Homo sapiens: one gene and its partner. The protein of the gene in region 2 purifies or fractionates together with the protein of the main gene of each other region. This does not show direct contact. Each region holds a gene or a part of one and is shown on either strand. Other genes may lie near its edges.

Region 1 (3,531 bases), on a different chromosome or scaffold from region 2:
TGGAATTCTTAGCTTCTCTTGGAAAAGACTGAGGATCCAGTAATAATGGACCTTTTGGCAGGCAGTAAGCTGGAATAGAATATCAATGGACTGTGCTGGCCTGCGTTATTCATATTCATCACTGCAGCTGGTTAAGAACAATCCACACAACAGCGCTTCTCAAGCTTCACTCTATACTTTAGTGTCCTGGGGATCTTGTAAAAAGTGCAAGTTCTGATTCAGTAGGTCCGAGTGTAGCCTGAAACTCTGCATTTCTGAAAGACTCACAGGTGATACAGATGCTGCTGGTCCTCCATCCATACTTTTTTCCTGTTTTGTCGCCCAGGCTAGAATTCAGTGGCAGGATCATAGCTCACTGCAGCCTCGAACTCCTAGGCTCAAGCAATCCTCCTGCTTCTGCCTCCTGGGTAGCTGGAACTGTAGATGCAAGCCACCAAGCCCAGCTCTAATCACACTTTGAATAGCTATGAATTAACAATAAACACAAATTCAAAAGGAAATAGAAAAGCAAACATTATCTTTATTTAATAATCTTTGATATTTAAAATACAACTCATTGAACATCCACACTAACAACAGAATCCTGTGTTCAACAGTGCTTTGGAAGCCCGGCTTTTCTAACGACCAGACAGGAAGGCCTGTGTGTGTAATAACAGCAAATGAACTTAACGAGGGAGCACACACAGAAGGGCTGCAGGGCTGGGTCCTGAGCAAGCGGCACTGCCACAGTGCACTTGTATCATGGCCAAACAACAATGCTTTTTGTTTCAGATATTTTCTGTACTTGAATTTCAAATATTTATACAGAACAGTAATTTTTAAAAAGTTATTCCTAATAGCCCAGTGTTGTAAAAATTAGATAATCACATTTAAAAATGTATGTTTTCCTCTTTCAAAAAAAAAAAAAGCATTAAAAAAATTCAGAAAACATTCCTTGAACTATGCAAGAGACAATTGAGAGCTTCCTAAATGCATCAGGAATATCCATTTATATTTTACTAATGTTTCTCATTGCTTTGTCTATGAATCCACAGGCTTAAAATGTTTTTTGATATGCTATTAAACATGCCAATTACGACAAATTTAGAAGTTACGTTATTAGCACTAATTCTTAAAATGCCAGACCACTTGGAAAAAATAATAATAGCAAAGATTTTCTTCAAATTAAAAAACAAAATCAAAATTCTAGAATTTACCAACGATGTCAATAATCTTCACTCATGAAAGCAAATTAGAACAAAAATATTTTTATTATGTTTAAGACTAAAAAAATACAAAGCCAGGTCATTTTTTAAAGCAAAAAGATGCTGGTTATAAAGGGGCCAGAAATAAAAGAAAGTTTTTATTTTGAATATGAAAAATAAAGTTATTTACATTGCTGACATGATTAGTTGATCCAATCTGGTAGTTCTTAATTAGGGTCACATATATATCCATACTTAAGGACTCGATACAACAAACAATTCACTTTGAAAACAGTGGCCCAAGGCCGGGTGTGGTGGCCTGCACCTGTAATCCCAGCACTTTGGGAGGCCAAGGCAGGCAGATCACCTGAGGTCAGGAGTTTGAGACCAGCCTAACATGGTAAAAGCCCGTCTCTACTAAAAAAAACAAATATTCGCCAGGTGTAGTGGCAGGTGCCTGTAATCCCAGGTACTTGGGAGGCTGAGGCAGGAGAATCGCTTGAACCCAGGAGGTGGAGGTTGCAGTGAGCCAACATCGTGTCATTGTACTCCAGCCTGGGCAGCAGAGCTAGACTCCGTCTCAGAAAAAAAAAAAAAGAAAGAAAGAAAGAAAGAAAAAGAAAATAGCGGCCCAACGCCTCTTCGTTTCCGGATTAAAAAAAAACAAACAAACCTTTAAGATGGAGTTTTACTCTTGTTGCCCAGGCTAGAGTGCAATGGCACGATCTCAGCTCACTGCAACCTCCACCTCCTGGGTTTAAACGATTCTCCTGCCTCAGCCTCCCAAGTAACTGGGATTACAGGTGCCCGCCACCATACCTGGCTTAAGTTTTGTATTTTTAGTAGAGATGGGGTTTCACCATGTTGGCCAGGCTGGTCTCAAACTCCGGACTTCAGGTGATCCACCTGCCTCAGCCTCCCAAAGTGTTGGGATTACAGGCGTGAGCCACTGCCCCCGACTGGGATAAAGTTTTTAATAGGAAGTCATATATATATACATATATATATACACACATATATATATATATATATATATTTTTTTTTTTCAGAAACAGTGTCTCACTCTGTTGGGCAGGCTGGAATGCAGTGGTGAGCCCTTGGCACTCTGCAACCTCTGCCTCCTAGGCTCATGCGATTCTTAGCCTCCTGAGTAGCTGGGATTACAAGTGTGTGCAACCACGCCCGGCTAATTTTTGTATTTTTAGTAGAAACGAGGTTTCACCATGTTGCCCAGACTGGTCTTGAACTCCTGGCCTGAAGTGATTCGCCCACCTCAGCCTCCAGAACTGCTGGGATTACAGGCGTGAGCCACTGCACCCAGCCGGGAGATCATCAATATTAACTATTGAATCCTCGTAAGAATTTAAAACATCAAGATTTATTTTTCTACTTAAGATTTTAAAATTATCATATTTTGATTATGCACTGAATCTATTTTTTATCTGTACAGGTCCAATGGGCCGGTTTTAAGAATTTAGTAGCTCTTGGCACTAGCATGATTTTTTTTTTTTTTTTGAGACAGAGTCTCACTCTGTCGCCCAGTCTGGAGTACAGTGGCACCATCTTGGCTCACTGCATCCTCTGTCGCCAGGGTTCAAGCAATTCTCCTGCCTCAGACTCCCAGGTAGCTGGGATTACAGGCACCTGCCACCGCGCCCAGCTAATTTTTGTAGTTTTTAGTACAGATGGGGTTTCACCATTTTGGCCAAGCTGGTCTCGAACTCCCGACCTCGTGATCCACCCACTTCGGCCTCCCAAAATGCTGGGATTACAGGCGTGAGCTACCACGCCCAGCCGCCACTAGCATGATTTTAAAAATAGTATCAAAAATTCAGACAATCAAAATGTGATTTAGGCTCTGACTGAAATAAAATTTATTTTATTCAACTTAATATTAAACAATATGGACTACTGGTAGTTTTGTCTGCAATGATACTCAACTGGTTTTGAGTTTTTTTCCTCATTTACTTTGGCATCATGAATAAAGTTAAGAAAAATCAAGTTTTAAGGACAAAAAAAAAAAGCACCACCTTAAATAAAATATTCTGTGAATTGTAAATTATTTGGCCAAGATCCTAGTATAGAGTTTACCTGCAGCAGCCTTTTCAAACAGTTTATATTACTGAAATATTTACATGATTACCGTAAAAAACATAGATTGATGGTTTTAGATCAGAGATTAACTATTCTGAATTTTAAAAACATAAATTACTCATTAAATCCATGACATCTGAAAATATGAAAGTGGTATTTCCAAGGCTTAAACTTCTACTAGCATCACCACTGTACATACTTGATCCCAGTAATACAAATTATACATTAGAAAAATGATACCAATAGTTTAAAT
Region 2 (3,855 bases):
CTTGATGTTTAGGATAGAAAATAAGTAGATGATAAGGCTTGTAAATGCTGGGAGTAGGAACAGACTTTGCAACCTCAGAGTGTAGCTGGTCACTGCTTCTTTGTGTCAGCTGGTTAGTTTGTGGCTTTATTTTATTATTATTATTATTTTTTTGATGGGGTCTCACACTGTCGCCCAGGCTGGAGCGCAGTGGTGTGATCTCGGCTCACTGCAACCTCCGACTTCCGGGTTCAAGCAGTTCTCTGTCTCAGCCTTCCGAGCAGCTGGGATTACAGGCACCCGCCACCACGACTGGCTAATCATTATATTTTTAGTAGAGGTGGGGTTTCGCCATGTGGCCAGGCTGGTCTTGAACTCCTGACCTCTTGATCCACCCGCCTTGGCCTCCCAAAGTGCTGGGATTACAGGCATGAGCCACTGTGCTCGAGCAGCTGGTTAGTTTTAACTACATATCCTCAATGAAGAAATACCAATGGGTGAATGAGTGAATAAAGCTTTCATTGAAAGGGAGTCTACTCCAAAGGTGAATTAGAAAGAAAAAATAGATTGTACTTTACCCTTTTTCTCTGGGGATTGATTAGTATAGACAAGACTCCAGACACTAATTCCAGACTACGAAATTAGTCTGTAAAACATTGAAATCTTTTTGTTACTACAGATTTATAGCGGACAAATGAACAAACCAGAAAACTTTATATTTCGTTTTTATTTTTTTTCTACCTCATTAACTGAGAAAAGTAAACTTTCTTAAACTCTCTTAAATTTCATTCTTGCTTTTTTTTTTTTTTGATACAGGGTCTTACTCTTGCCCAGGCTGGAGTGCAGTAGTGAGATCATGGCTTACCGCAGTTTCAGACTCCTGGGCTCAAGCAATTCTCCCACCTCAGCCTCCCAAGTAGCTGGGACTACAGGCCTGAGCCACCATGCCTGGCTAGTTTTTATTTTTGGAAGAGATGGTGGGGGTCTCTCTGTGTTCTCCAGGCTGGTCTTGAACTCCTGGGCTCAAGTGATCCTTCCACTTCAGCCTCCCAAAGTGCTAGGATTACAGGCATGACCCACCATACCTGGCCTTAAGTTTCTTTTTGTTAAAGTAATCATGTTTAATTTTAATCAACGTTGGCTATTTATGGTACCATTTTCATTTTGACATCCTTTATAAAAACAGAAATTTAGCATTGCGATCATTTTACTTGTGTTAATATCAAGTAGCTTGCAGTTGCACACAGAAAATTGCTAAATATATATTATGGTACTCAAAAACCAGATGACTTTTCCACCAGTTTCACCTATCCTCATTATTATTTTAGTCTCAGTGTATACAGTAATCATTTAAATTTTCTGACTTTTCACATTATATACTTGGAAATATCTATGCAATTCGCTACTCTTTGTCTTGTAAAGAGAAGAGAGATTCAGTTAAATACCCAGTTCTTGCTTAGAAACAAAGTACTGGTGCCGGCTTAAGTATATGTTTCTTTTGACGGTGGTGTTTTTCCTCATATTAACTTAGCTAGTAAGGCAGGCTGCGTAGGGAGAGTTGGCAGAGAGAGGTGGTGGATGAAAATACCTTTTTGTCATCTGTTTTATTGAGGAGAATGGGGTTAGTCCTGAATATATTACTTTATAAACTTTAAAAAGGATCCAAGGCCTTTTCACTGTGGGGAGCCATTGTTAAGACAGTGCTGTGATTTGAATTAGCATGGTTAACAGCTGCTGCATTTCACTCTTTCTTTAAAAGCATACATATCTGTAGCAGTTAACTTTACCTAGTATCTTCCTCATGTAATTCAAGAAGACAGTTTTTACGAAACTGTGAAAAATATACCTTATAAATAGCAGCACTGCAGCAAATGTAATTTTCTGTTTGATAAAATTTGTTTTTTTTTTAACCTTTTTTTTTTTTTCTGAGACAGGGTCTCTCTCTGTCACCCAGGCTGGAATGCAGTGGTGCAATCATGACTCACTGCAGCCTCGACCTCCTGGGCTCAGGTGATTCTCCCACCTCAGCCTCCCAGGTAGCTTGGGCTACAGGCACACACCACCACACCCAACTAATTTTTGTATTTTTTTTTGGTAGAAGTGGGGTTTTGTCTTTTTGACCAGGCTGGTCTTGAGCTCTTGAGCTCAAATGGTCCACCCATCTCAGCCTCCCAAAGGGCTGGGATGACAGGTGTGAGTCACCGCACCCGGCCTGATAAAATTTATATATATACATATTTTTAATTTTTATTTATTTTTTCATTATTTTTAAAAATCTTTAAAATATATTTTTAATGCTTTTTAAATATACTTTAAAGTGGAAAGAATAGTATAATAAATACTTGTATTGCTCTTCACTTAGAGATTTACCAATATGGTACATTTGTTTTATCTTCCTACCTATATACTTTTTTGGTCATGGACCCAAAATTCTTAAGATGCATCTCCTAAGAATAAAGATATTTTTCTGCATAACCACATCATCATCATTACACCTAAGGAGAAGATAAATCATACAATATATGTAATTTTGAACCATGGGAAAATAGTTTCTATTTTTGTGGTTTCCAAAGGTGTTTTTTTTTTTTTTTTTTTTTTTTGAGACAGAGTCTCACACTTACTGCCCGGGCTGGAGTGCAGTGGTGCGATCTTGGCTCACAGCAACCTGTAATGTTAGGTTGTCAGTTTGTGATCTTTCAACCTTTTTGCTTTGTTCTGTTTTTGTTTTTTGTTTTTTTGAGACAAGGTCTCACTTTGTTGCCGAGGCTGGAGTGCAGTGGTGCAATCTTAGCTCACAGCAACCAGTGCCTCCCAGGTGCAATCAATTCCCGTGCGTCAGCTTCTTGAGTAGCTGGGACTACCGGCACACACTACCATGCCGGGCTAATTTTTGTATTTTTAGTAGAGATGGGGTTTTACCATGTTGGCCACCAAGTCTCAAACTCCTGGTATCAAGTGATCCGCCTCCTGCCTTGGCCTCCCAAAGTGCTGGGATTACAGGCATGAGCCGCTGTGTCCAGCACCAAAGGTTTTTGATTATATATCTTATTAGTTAAAAAAATACTGAGCACACAGTCTTAACGTATGTAATTTATACATTGTATACGGGTAATACTACTACTGCACATTATACAAAATTGCCAAGAAGGAATATTGAAAAAGAATGAGATGAAGAAATTAACAAGGGTATTCTATTCTTTACGTACTCTAATGGATCATGACACACACCTACTTTGGAACTACTGTTCTAGTTTGGTATTCTTGATAAATGCAGTGGAGATAGTGTGGTTAAGGTCTGAATGCATAGGCTGAAGATTGAGGACTCCTTTCATTATTGTGAATTTAAGTGATGGCTTCAATGTTTAAATTTGAGTGAGGAGTGGTTAATTTTAGTGATTTAGAGTGATGAGTTATTATTTTCCCCAAGTGTTTATTCTTAGGAAAAAGCATATATTTGGAGAGCTTGGAGAAAGTTACACATTTTTTTTCGAGTAGCCACTTATCTAACAGGAAAGTGATGTATTTCTCAGAACTCTCCCTTGCTCACCCCTGGAAATGTCAAGTACTTTTTTCTTTCTGATTTCTCATTGTCACTGCCTTCTTAGTCTTTTGGCTTCTGCTCGTTTATTACTAGTTGGTGTTTTGTTTATTTTTTCTTGAGGAAATATCTAGAGAAAAGACCTGTTTGTTTAGGTATGTTCTATTTGATGTGCCAACTGGTGAAAATATTCCCCCATAAAAGCTATGGTGGATTTGTGTAGATGTTTTGAGAACTCTTTGAATAGCCATAGTGTGGGAAATCAGCATATATGTAATTCAGAATATGCTGTACCAGGGAATCAAGCCAACTCTTTTATTAGTGAAATTGAATTTTCA

What was found.
Region 1: the proteins of AEBP2 (region 2) and ATXN3 purify together in Homo sapiens (affinity purification with mass spectrometry; 3 studies listed by BioGRID and IntAct, with this or other methods). This does not show direct contact.

Annotation. Positions count from the first base shown.
Region 1 is NC_000014.9:92,058,052-92,061,582, forward strand, and holds the end of ATXN3 (ataxin-3 reference isoform), read right to left. Parts: 3' UTR 501-3,531; downstream 1-500. UniProt on the Homo sapiens protein: Deubiquitinating enzyme involved in protein homeostasis maintenance, transcription, cytoskeleton regulation, myogenesis and degradation of misfolded chaperone substrates.
Region 2 is NC_000012.12:19,494,774-19,498,628, forward strand, and holds part of AEBP2 (zinc finger protein AEBP2), read left to right. Parts: intron 1-3,855. UniProt on the Homo sapiens protein: Acts as an accessory subunit for the core Polycomb repressive complex 2 (PRC2), which mediates histone H3K27 (H3K27me3) trimethylation on chromatin leading to transcriptional repression of the affected target gene.